Regions from separate parts of the Homo sapiens genome. Here region 2 is linked to region 1. Evidence: fine-mapped expression QTL. A gene starts in region 1. The other region holds a variant in brackets. All regions are shown on one strand. Distances are between the middles of the regions. Region 1 holds the start of RMND5A (required for meiotic nuclear division 5 homolog A). Region 2 overlaps RMND5A (required for meiotic nuclear division 5 homolog A).

What was found.
Region 2: its variant is fine-mapped to the expression of RMND5A in whole blood (INTERVAL, PIP 0.93).

The regions. Positions count from the first base shown.
Region 1 is chr2:86,718,146-86,723,520 of GRCh38, forward strand. RMND5A (required for meiotic nuclear division 5 homolog A) reads left to right here and starts at 2,146. Exons shown (of 9, transcript NM_022780.4): 1 at 2,146-2,664. The coding sequence starts at 2,523. It overlaps RNF103-CHMP3 (RNF103-CHMP3 readthrough), which reads right to left and starts at 2,977. Exons shown (of 8, transcript NM_001198954.1): 1 at 2,837-2,977. RefSeq lists an enhancer at 1,339-1,872 and silencers at 1,993-2,182, 2,066-2,224, 2,703-2,762.
Region 2 is chr2:86,745,503-86,750,877 of GRCh38, forward strand. All of the region lies in intron 2 of RMND5A (required for meiotic nuclear division 5 homolog A), which reads left to right. Among named protein-coding and RNA genes, the nearest start is that of RNF103-CHMP3, 27 kb to the left of the region's middle. The variant A/C (reference allele first, on the strand shown) is at 2,209.

The DNA of each region.
Region 1 (5,375 bases):
ATTTGTGATCAGTGGATTATCATGGCTCTTACCTTGTGCCAGGCATTTTGTTGAGTGCCTTAAATGGAATATTTCATACTATAACAACCCTTTGAAGGAGAAGAAAAAAAAAAGACTGAGAAAAGGGTGACTGAGCTTATCAAGGAGATCCTTGAAGAAAAGGGAGGAATAAACATAGATTTGTCTAGGCAGTTTGGCAGTGAAAGAAATGAGTGCTTGAGGAGGGTTAAATTAAGTTTCCTCCCCCAGGTAGGTCAAACCCATTTGGGCTGAAAGTAGAAAGGAAGAACCTACTGCAGAGAAAGAGGGGGAAGATCTGGACAGGGGTGAGAGGCAGCCCGCAGGCCCCAACGGCTGTCTTGGAAAGGGAGAAGGGACTCCTGGTCCTTTGGGTACATGAGAATGTTCACAAAATGGGTGGTACACAGCAATACTTGGAGAAGAGTGATAGAAGTTGCTGGAGCTAGATTTTTTTTTTTTTTTTAATCTCAGTGAAGAATCAGAGACATCTGCCAAGAGGGAAGAAAAATGGGGTGGGGAGAAGGGAGATCTGAAATAATACCAGTTGGGGCTGCCCTAATAATGACTACTACCACCTTTATCATGTGGTTATCATGAGCCTATTATGGGTATTTACATATATTCTCCTTTATCTAACAATTTAGTTAAGTATTAATTCCAATTATTTCTCAGTTATACGGAAGTTAAGGCTCAAAAACGTTATCACGTTAATTTAAGAAAAAGAATTGCCTACCACCTCACGCCAGGGGCTGTTCTAGGCAAAAAATTTAGACAAGCAGGGGGCCTGCCGTCATGGTTTTATGTAAGTGGTGCAGACAGAAAAATAAAACATCAGATCATTTCAGAGTTTAAGTGGTGTGGAAATAATAAAATGTGTTATGGTATTAACGGTGGGGAGGAAGTACATTAGTGTGGTCAGCCAGGGGAGGACCCTGTAAGGGGACAAGTGAGCTGAGAAGAACTTCAGGATGAAAAAGGTAGGAGGAAGAGTTTTCTGGGCCAAGGAAAGGGCAAGTGCAGAGGCCCTGAGGCACGAACTAGCTGGGCTCCTGAAGAAATGCAAAGGTAGTGCAGCCGATGCTGATCAAGGAGGTCTAGGCCAAGGCTGCAGACGCCATAGCAAGCGATGGGAAGGATTTACCCGAGGGGGTAAAGCCGATCCGATCCGATAGCATAAGGCTTCCTAGGGAGCAAGGGCCAGGCTGCCCGGCTCTCCAGCGCGTGTTCTTTCCACCCGGCTAAGCTGCCCGGCACATGGCTCTGGGGCGAGGCCACCGTCAGGAGAGGTTCCAGGCCAAGGGGCCAAAGGGCCACGGTCCGCGGGGGATGGGGACATGACCTCCTGGGTGTCGCAAGCCCGGGGCAGCGCTGACAGCCGGCGCGGGCCTTTCGCGAGCAGCAAGCGGCTCCCCTCACCCGGGCCCAATCACCCCCGCCTTTAATTCCCATTAGGGACCCCCCGCCGACGCAGAACCAGCCCCCGGGCGGCCTGGCTTGGTTTTTCATTCCCGGGAGATGGATCCGTCGCCCAAAAGTTCGGAATGACGGTACCCCTTTCCCTTAAGATCGATGAGGAGACGAAATAAATTGGGATCAGGGCGACGTCCTATGGAAAACAGCCTTTTGTATTTTTGTCTAGTTTTCCCCCAAGGCTTTCCATAAACTACTCGTTTCTCGGTACGCTCTCCAAGTCACCCCCTCCAACAGCGAGCCCGTTGGTTTGGCCCCTCAGCCCGGATTGGCTGAAGGCTTACGCCTCGGCCAGGGATTGGCTTCTTACCACTCCCCGCGCCCATTGGTTGGGGTTCCCCGCTTCTGGGCGGAGTGGTGAGGGCCGGTTTCCGCCTCCTTGTTTATGGAGCGCGTAGTTGTTGCGCTCTCCGAGCGCTGGGGCTGTCTCCAAAGTTCCCTATTTAGCTCCTCAGGCCAATTGGGGCCTCGCTCCACCCTCGCCCTCTCCCTCGCACGCCTTCCGTGTGGTACGGCCCACACCATTAGAGTGGCGGCGCGTGTGGGCGCCCGTCGCGTTCCTCCGCCCGTTCTCGCCGGGTCGCACCCCCCACCCCGAGGGTGTACTTGGTACGGCCCGCGCCGCCTCCTTTCCTCGCCCGGGTGGCCATCCCCCTCCCCCCAGTCGGCGGCGCTTGGTGCCGCCCGGGAGAACCAGGTCATCGGTCGGTTCCCGTGAAAACAAAAACAATCGGCCGCGCCGTCGCAGGCACCCGAACGTCGCGAGCGGGGCCTGGGGACGCGGAGCCGAGTGCAGCGAGCGAACGGGAGCAGCGGCGACTCGCCGGGGGGCTAGGGCGCCATGGGGCAGGCGGGCTCCGGCTGCGCGGGGCTCCCCCGGCGCCGCGGCTAGTGCGCCCGCCGCCTCGGCCGCCTCAGCCTCCCGCGCCGCCCGCTTGGGGAACGAGGAGCAGGACGCGGCCTCGGTGGGGCCCGGGCCGAACGGCTGCGGACACCTGGGCGCCGAGGAGCCGAGCGCCGCCGCCTCCGGCATGGATCAGTGCGTGACGGTGGAGCGCGAGCTGGAGAAGGTGCTGCACAAGTTCTCAGGCTACGGGCAGCTGTGCGAGCGCGGCCTGGAGGAGCTCATCGACTACACCGGCGGCCTCAAGCACGAGATCCTGCAGAGCCACGGTAGGGCGGCCCGCGTGGGCGCGCGGGGCATGGCCCACTGCCCGAGCCCCGGTCCCGGCCCCGCGGCGGGAATCCCTCACCCACCCTCGCGCCTCTGGCCCGGCCCTTGCCTCCCCTGAGGCGCGGAGGCCCCCAGACCCCTGAGACTTTTTCCCCTCTTCGTCCGATTTACCTCGAACCTGCCGCGACCTCGCTGCCAATTCAGAAGGAGCGCGAACCACCCGGAAACCCAGCCGGGAGCGGCGGGCTCCAGTCCGGATAAACGTGGGTGAGGGGGCCGCCCATCGCACCTGCAAACTGCCGACCCCCGAGTGGGCGCCCCTCGTCCCCCGCTCCCAGCCGGCCCCGGGAGTCTCACGTGGTGCCCGCGGCGCTGTTCTGTGGGCGGTGACTGAATCGCCTGGGACCCCAGGTTCTGAGTGATGAGGGCAGTGCAGGAAGCTCCGTTTCCCCTCTGTGCCGCCCCGAATCCTTGGCCAGGGGACTTCGTTTCTTCGTTTTATTTTGGAAAGTCGAGCGTTATTCTTAGCTGTGGGTTAACAACAGCCGCTCCTGCAACTTCATGATTTGGCTGCTGTGTGGACGCAGCTCTTAACTCCGCAGCGGCTCTGACATGGTTCCTTGGAAACCAGCTCAATTCAACCCTTCTGTTCTCCCAGTGTACCTTCTGATGACACCGAGGAGGAACGGGCGACATTTGCCCAAGTAAATTGTGCACATGTTGCTAGTTACTTGCTTTGCCTGGTTAAGTTCGTTCAAAAAAAATAAATTTTCCTATAGAAGGTGTTTCACCTAGATTGTTTTTTTTTTTACTGCCCCAAGCCCTGAGGACAGGTACTTTTAAAGGTTTGGTTTTCTTACACTTTAGAAGTCACAGCGATGATTCCTTTTGATCAAGAAGTGAAGGACTTATTTAATGGGTCTTTAATAAGAGGCTGAGGGGGCTTTTCAGCTTGTGGGCTGAACAGAAATTTATGTGAAGGACGGTTTGGTAGCTGGGGGAAGATGCAGATTATTTGTGGCAGGTGAGATGAGGGCAGTGGCGTTAGCTGAGTGTCTCTCTCCTTCTCCTTCATTTTTTCACACTTTCCCAGACTGCGTTTCAGTTGAGGATGGGTGCTGGTCCATGGGAAAGGAGTCTTACAGCAGCTTCTCATTCTGGACACTGCAGTCATTTTTGAACTCCAGGAAGGAAGCAAACCTGCAGTCATAGTGGATGAGATTTTAATATGGAAAAACCGTATTAATTCTCATAGGAGTTGCAATACTAGTATGGAAAAACGAGCAGACCTTGGTGGCTGCCTGTGAAGGGAAATTTGACTGACGTGGCGATGATGATATAGTTGGTAGATACAGGGAAGTGAAGGTGGAATGGGACAGGAATCCTGGGAAGACTTTGAATTTGGTTTTGGACATGTGAAGTAAGGTTGAAGGGCTTAATGAAGATAGAATCGAGGGCTTTCCTATTTACTGGTGGCTGGAGATGCATAGGTCTAAGATTGTTTTCTGATGTCATTTCTAGGAGGACAGTGGAGGGGATCACTTAGATTGCACAGAAGAAAGACTAGAGTCTAACCACAGTCTTGAATTTTCCTTGGCGAGTGGAGAGCCAAGGCTAGATAGAGCCAGCAGAAATCGAAAAGGGCGAGGACTTAGAAAAGGAGAGATTGGTCAGCTTTTATTTGGCTATTGGGAGTCAGTAACCCTCTGTGCTTGCAGTTTCATAGAATTGCTAAGACAAGCCAGATTACTGGGGGTTAAGAAGAAAAATTCGATGTGAACCGAGGTGTGGGAAATCCAGTACAGCGGTGGGAGGTATTCCCTCTGTGCTCCCGGCCCTGCCAAGGAACCAGTGGAGGAAGAGAATGAAGGGCCTAGACTTGGAGAGGTGGAAGGAACATTTCGTTTTTAGGGACCAGGTCATAGGCAGAGTTTGAGAGGAAAATGATGGAACAGAAAGTACCTTTCTTCCATGAGAGAGGATGTAAGTTGAAGGGGGATGTGATTGTGAGCTTTGTTTTAGAAAATTTAGGGCCAGGCTCAGATGGATAAAATGATGGTGAGAAATTGCTGAGGCAGGAATTTGTTTTTGACTCTCCACTGGGTACTAGGGAACTTTTCTCAGAATTTATGGTTTGAGGGGTATTGGCCACACAGTATGCTATGCTGTTAAAAACAGTCTGAGTTGGTGAGTTTGTGTGTTCCCTTTTCAGCCTCCTAATTTTTTCCCTCTTGTCTACCAAATTGCTAGTCTTATATTGGTATCTCTTTGATTTCCTTTAATTCTTCAATAATAGGATTAAGTGACTAAAGGTAGTTATAAAACATGAAAGAAAATAAATACCACAAGTGCCAGGTCTAGTTTCCCAAATAAAATCTTTCTTCTTTTGGTGTTTTTTTGTGTAAAGATAAACATCATGCTTTGGCATCTGGGCTATGGTATTTTTGAAAACAGATGATTTCTAAATTAAAGTTCTCGGCAGGTGATGTGGTAGATATTACATTGAAACTTAAATATGCCCTTCTCAAAGGTATTTTACTGAAAACTGAGTTTGGAACTCTATTTTCAAGTTTAAAGGGAAGATTTTTGGGCTTCTGAATATACCTGTCTGGGCAAATGATTCTGATAACCTGAGAGGCTCTAATTGGGACCCCTCTGTCAGGACTTTGGACCTCATTCTCTGAGATTACTTGTGGTAATACTTGCAAGA
Region 2 (5,375 bases), 27 kb after region 1:
TGACTCATGTTTAAGATGCTTCAAGATTGACTTGATTAGAGTGACTGCTCCTGTTGGGAATAGGGAAAGGTAAATGATGGAAGGCCTGAGAGGTGTGGATTTGATCAGATGATGAAAGCAGTTGAGGATTTACTTGACCTCATTAAGTAGGATGAAAACAGACTAAATAGTAGTCATAGGTAGGAGGATAATAGCTATCACATATTGAGTGTTGACCATGTTCCAGATAGTGAGCTAAGTGCTTTACATACATTTATATCTATCCCATGATGCAGGGACATTATTCCCATTTTATATATGAGGAAACTGAGACTCAATACCCAGGTATATAATTTGGAAGTAGTGGATCAAGGTTTGGAAAAAGTTTTTACTCAAGAATCTGTTCTTAAACACTGTGCTGTACTAGGAAATCACTGAGGCCATTGCAGAGCTGGTAATGTTGAAGGGGAACAATAATAGTTAAAAAAAATTTTAAACCTCATTATCTAAACAGATCTTTTGCCACTGGGTGGAGTATCTACATTGGTGAGGCAAAATGCTGACTGTATTAAGGAGTGAATGGAGTAATGGTATAAAAAAATGACATATAGAATATTTTAAGATAGTTCTGGGTGAGCAGTCCAGAACTGCCTTTTATGTTGGTATGTGATAAACAAGGTCTGTGTGTTGGGTAGAGAGGGACAAAAGGACTTAATATCCATTAAACTGTGCTAGCTAATCCAGTCTGCAATTGCATTTAAGTGCTTTTAAATTAATGAATATTAATATCTCTGCATGCTTTCGTGTATTTGTTTTTGTTTATATTTTCTAATAAGGATTCTTTTAAATACAGAAGCAGAAGGTTTGGTGGCAACCTGGCCCTCAGATTCAGCTTTGGTTAGGTTTGGCCTGGCTCTCAGATTCAGCTACTGTGTATTAAAGGTTTACTGATGGATGGATACTCATAGAGGTTTTCATGTACATTATTTACCTTTATCTTCACCAAAGACTTGTAAGGTCGAGATTATTGTCTCTAGATACAGATGTGAAAACTTAGATTTGTAAGTAACCTGCCTGAAGTCACAGAGTTGGGATTAAAACCCAGATTTTAAGACTTGGAGGAACCTTTCTCAACTGGAGTTCCTTGAGAGAATTCATCTCTAGTGCCCTGAGGGCACCCACTCTACATATGAATTTCTCTCCTTTCCATAGAATGGTAAGAGATACATATCATCCTTGGAAGAATTAATAAAATAGCCACAGAAAGGCAGATAACTAATAGTGGAGGGATAGGGATGCAAATGTGACAGAAAGGCCTGGCAGAGTGGTTTGGCACGTTACTCCCTCATTTTTTAAATAAAGCAATAACATAACAGTGTGAATCTACCTTTCTCTTAATGTTGATAACCAAAGAAGAGGTATAAATACCGTAAGGAGAATATGGAATGTCTACATCAAAAAATGCATCTACAAAATGCTGATTATGACACACTACCAAGTTTATTTTCCAGCCCTTGGTTTGTAAAGCACTGCTATCTGGTATATGCCTAAATATGGATTATTTCATCATAGGACAGGTGCCTCATTATCAGCTTTACTAGGTATTGTAAAATTTTCCCCTGAAGGGTTTATACCAATTTACAGCCCTACCAAACACCTATAACACTTCCTGCTTCCTCATTTCTCACCTATACCTGGTATTATCAGACTTCAAATGTTTAAAGATTAATCAGATGGGTGTGAAGTAGTATCTAGTTGTACTAATTTTGCCTTTCTTTGACCATCTTGAAGGTGGGGCATCTTCTCATGTTTAACATTAGGAATTTCCCATTTGTGCATTTCATGTTCTGTCCATTTTTTCTGTTAAGTTATCTTTCTTATTGAGAGGTGTGTGTTTGTTTCAAACTCTTCTGAATACTAATCTTGTGTGGTTTGTATGCGAAGTAGCTATCGTCTGTTAGTCTGAGGAGAACCAGAATCCAGGTCTTCTTACTCTGTTAAGTATCCTTTGCTGTCTGCCTCTCACTGCTAAACCAGATTAACTGGATGCTTAAAAGGGAAATTAATTCCTGGTAGGTGCAACAATAGCACATTTTGTTGGTTCATACACTAATTTTTCTTCAAAGTAGATGGAGAAGTTTCAAAATACATGTTAATACTATTAGGGAATTGGTACTTAGGAATTAAATACTGAGTTTTATATATATTGTGACCACTGTCTGCTCAGTC[A/C]TTATAATTTTATAAAATATATTTGAGAAACGGATGGGTTTTTGACGGTAAACAGTGAAAGCCATTTCCGACTGATTTGTGTATTCATGATACGGCATGATACGGCCTGTTTAGATCGCACACTTTCATAATGATGTTGTATCAAAGTTATTTACTCCTCTTCTGCCTCAGCTTCTAGATTTAGTATGTCCTGGATTTCTCCTTCCAAGTCAGAACATCCTCTCCGGATGGACACACCCTTGGATGTGTGCTTTTTTGCTTTTGGTTCTTGTTTGGATCCTTTCTTCCCAATTAAGAACAGGATGCCAAAGCTTTTCTTTGCTTAAAAAATATGAAAAGAAAAAGTATAGTAAGACAGAAGATGTTAATTATAGATGGTATTTCTCTTCATTAGCCACCTCTTGGCTGGTTTGCAGTGCTGTGGATTTTCTGGACAGCCATGCAAATGAGCTTGGTTACCTAGCAACAGAAGCTGGAACTAATGCTAGCTCTGATGCAACAGTGAGTAAGAACCTGCAGTTATAACAAAAGGAGTTTGACAGTGTATTGCATTTCCTCAACCTCTATATATTTTATAATCTTAGCTTTAATTTTTAATGCATGTGACCAGAAAATAAGCTATGGAAGTTTACTTATCTACCTCAGTAGTTTATACTGGAAAATCAGAATGGTAGAAGGGAGCTCAGAAGTGTCCAGAAAACAATCGAATGCATTGCTTATTCATGCTTCTTTTCCAAGAGCAGCAAATAAGTTACGAGCTTGAATGTAGTTAGATTTTGAGTGTAAGGGTGTTTGACTTTTCTTACCTATGTAGTAGTGACCATAGTAAGCCTTAAGAAAATAGAGATACACATAGGGCATTGTTGTAAAACTTTGTAGCAAACCCAAAGAAAATTGTTTAAATATTAGACTCTTTTTGTAATTTTCTAGTTGATGAATATTTACTTTTAATATGTATATTAAGGAAAGAATTGAAGGGATTATTTTGTTTGATCTGAGCAAGTACTGTCAGATGGTAGCTTATTAAAATTCTGACCTAATATATATATTACCGGATAAAATTGTTTCAACATGATCTGTGCTTTGAGCTGACCAGCGTGTCTTCCAGCGTTGTTTTATTTTTCCCTAAGGAATAGGTACTAATAAATTTGTTGTTTGGGGAAAAATCATTAAATGAATAAGTAGAAACCTGAAGGTTGTATTTGGATTTAATGCAGTTGATAAGTTAGTGAGAGAACTTTCTTAATTCATCTCTCTATTCTTTCCTTATACTGTGCATTTAGACATTTAGAGAGTTATGGGCAGGTTCCTGAGTTTGTAATAAACTCATCTTCAGATCTTTAGAAACCCATTCCTTTATGCATTTGAATGGCCCTTTGGGAAGTGGAATTTGGGAGAGAACAGCGTTGATCAGCCTCTGAGCTCTACTCCAGAAGAGACAGAAAGCAGTACCATCTCCGGTGTTGTAGTTGTCATAGACAGCATAAAGATAAAATAATTTACTTAAAAATACTGATGAACTGTTATAAAATTAGCTCTCAACAGGCAGAATCTGATAAATAGAAATTAAACATAATCTTATACAAGCAGTTGTGGTTCTTCAGTGCTAGTTAACAGTTTTTTCATTATATGCATGGATGCTCTTGCTTTAGCATCTAGGTACTTTGTATTATTTCTTTTTCTTTCTTTTTTTTTTTGAGATGGAGTCTTGCTCTGTCTCTCAGGCTGGAGTGCAATGGCGTGATCTCGGCTCACTGCAACCTCTGCCTCCCTGGGTTCAAGCGATTCTCCTTCCTCAGCCTCCCAAGTAGATGGGATCACAGGCACCCACCACCACGCCCAGCTAATTTTGTATTTTTAGTAGAGACGAGGTTTCACCATGTTGGCCAGGTTGGTCTTGAACTCCTGACTTCAGGTGATCCTCCCACCTCGGCCTCCCAAAGTGCTGGGATTACAGGAGTGAGCCATCATGCCCACCCCGTTATTTCTATTCTTTAGGTTAAATACTTGGCTAAGAAAAATGTCTGTGAAAAGGAAATGAATAAAAATTAAGACTGACAATATTCTTGGTTTTTTGTGTTTGTTTTGTCTTGAGTGATTCCAAACCTTAATGTATGTATTCAGTTTTAGGCTACTGTTTTCACATCTAGAGATAGGGTAGATAGCTGTTTATAGGGAGAAAAATGTGCTTAATTTTGGAGAAAAGCACTCCTGCATTGTGATTGTAAATAGTGGGTTGTTTGCAGTTGCTGTTGCTGGTTACTTACTACCTGTTCTTGTACATCATGTAAAATAATCCCATATTGGTTGGACTGTATATTTAAGCAGTGGTTGACTAGGATTGCAATTTTAGTTAAATCTAAATGGCCTTGTCTAGTTAAGTTTATATATTTTTAAAAAGAAATGCAAAACATTTATTAGGGAGCAATGCCTATGAAAGATAAAGGGTGCTGAAGTGGAATTAGGCTGGGAAAGCTTTCACACTGTGATGTACGTTTGCTCTTCTTTCACTCTTGATGTTTCATGTTCCTTCTGGTGTCATTTTCTTCTGTCTGAAGACTTTAGCAATACTTTTAGAGCAAGTCTGATGGCAGTAAATTCAGTTTCCCTCCGTCTGAGAATGTCTTTATTTCATCTTCATTCCTGAAGGATATTTTCACTGGATATAGAATTCTAGGATGACAGTTATTTTCTTTCAGTACTTGACAAATGTCATGCCACTTCTTTCTGGCCTCCATAGTTTCTGTTGAGAAATCTGTAGTCATTTGAATCATGGTTCCCCTGTAAGTAACATGTCACTTTTCTCTGGCTGCCTGCAAGATTTTTTGCTTTATCTTTAGTTTTAACAGTTTGAATGTGAGATGTTTGGGTCAGATTTCTTTGAATTTGTCCATGTTGGAGTTCACTGACCTTCTAGAATCTGAGATTTATGTCTTTTGCTAAACTTGGGAAATACTCTTCAACTATTTTTTTCTGTACCATACTGTTTCTCTTCTCCTAGTATTCCGATGACACACACGTTAGAGCTTTTGTAATTTTCCCACAGGTCCCTGAGGCTCTGTTTTTTTTTTTTTTTTAAACTGGTGTTCAGATTGGATGAATTCTATTGATTTTCACTGACTTTTTGCACTGCCACTTTGCTTCTGCTGTTGAAAAATTCATCCAAT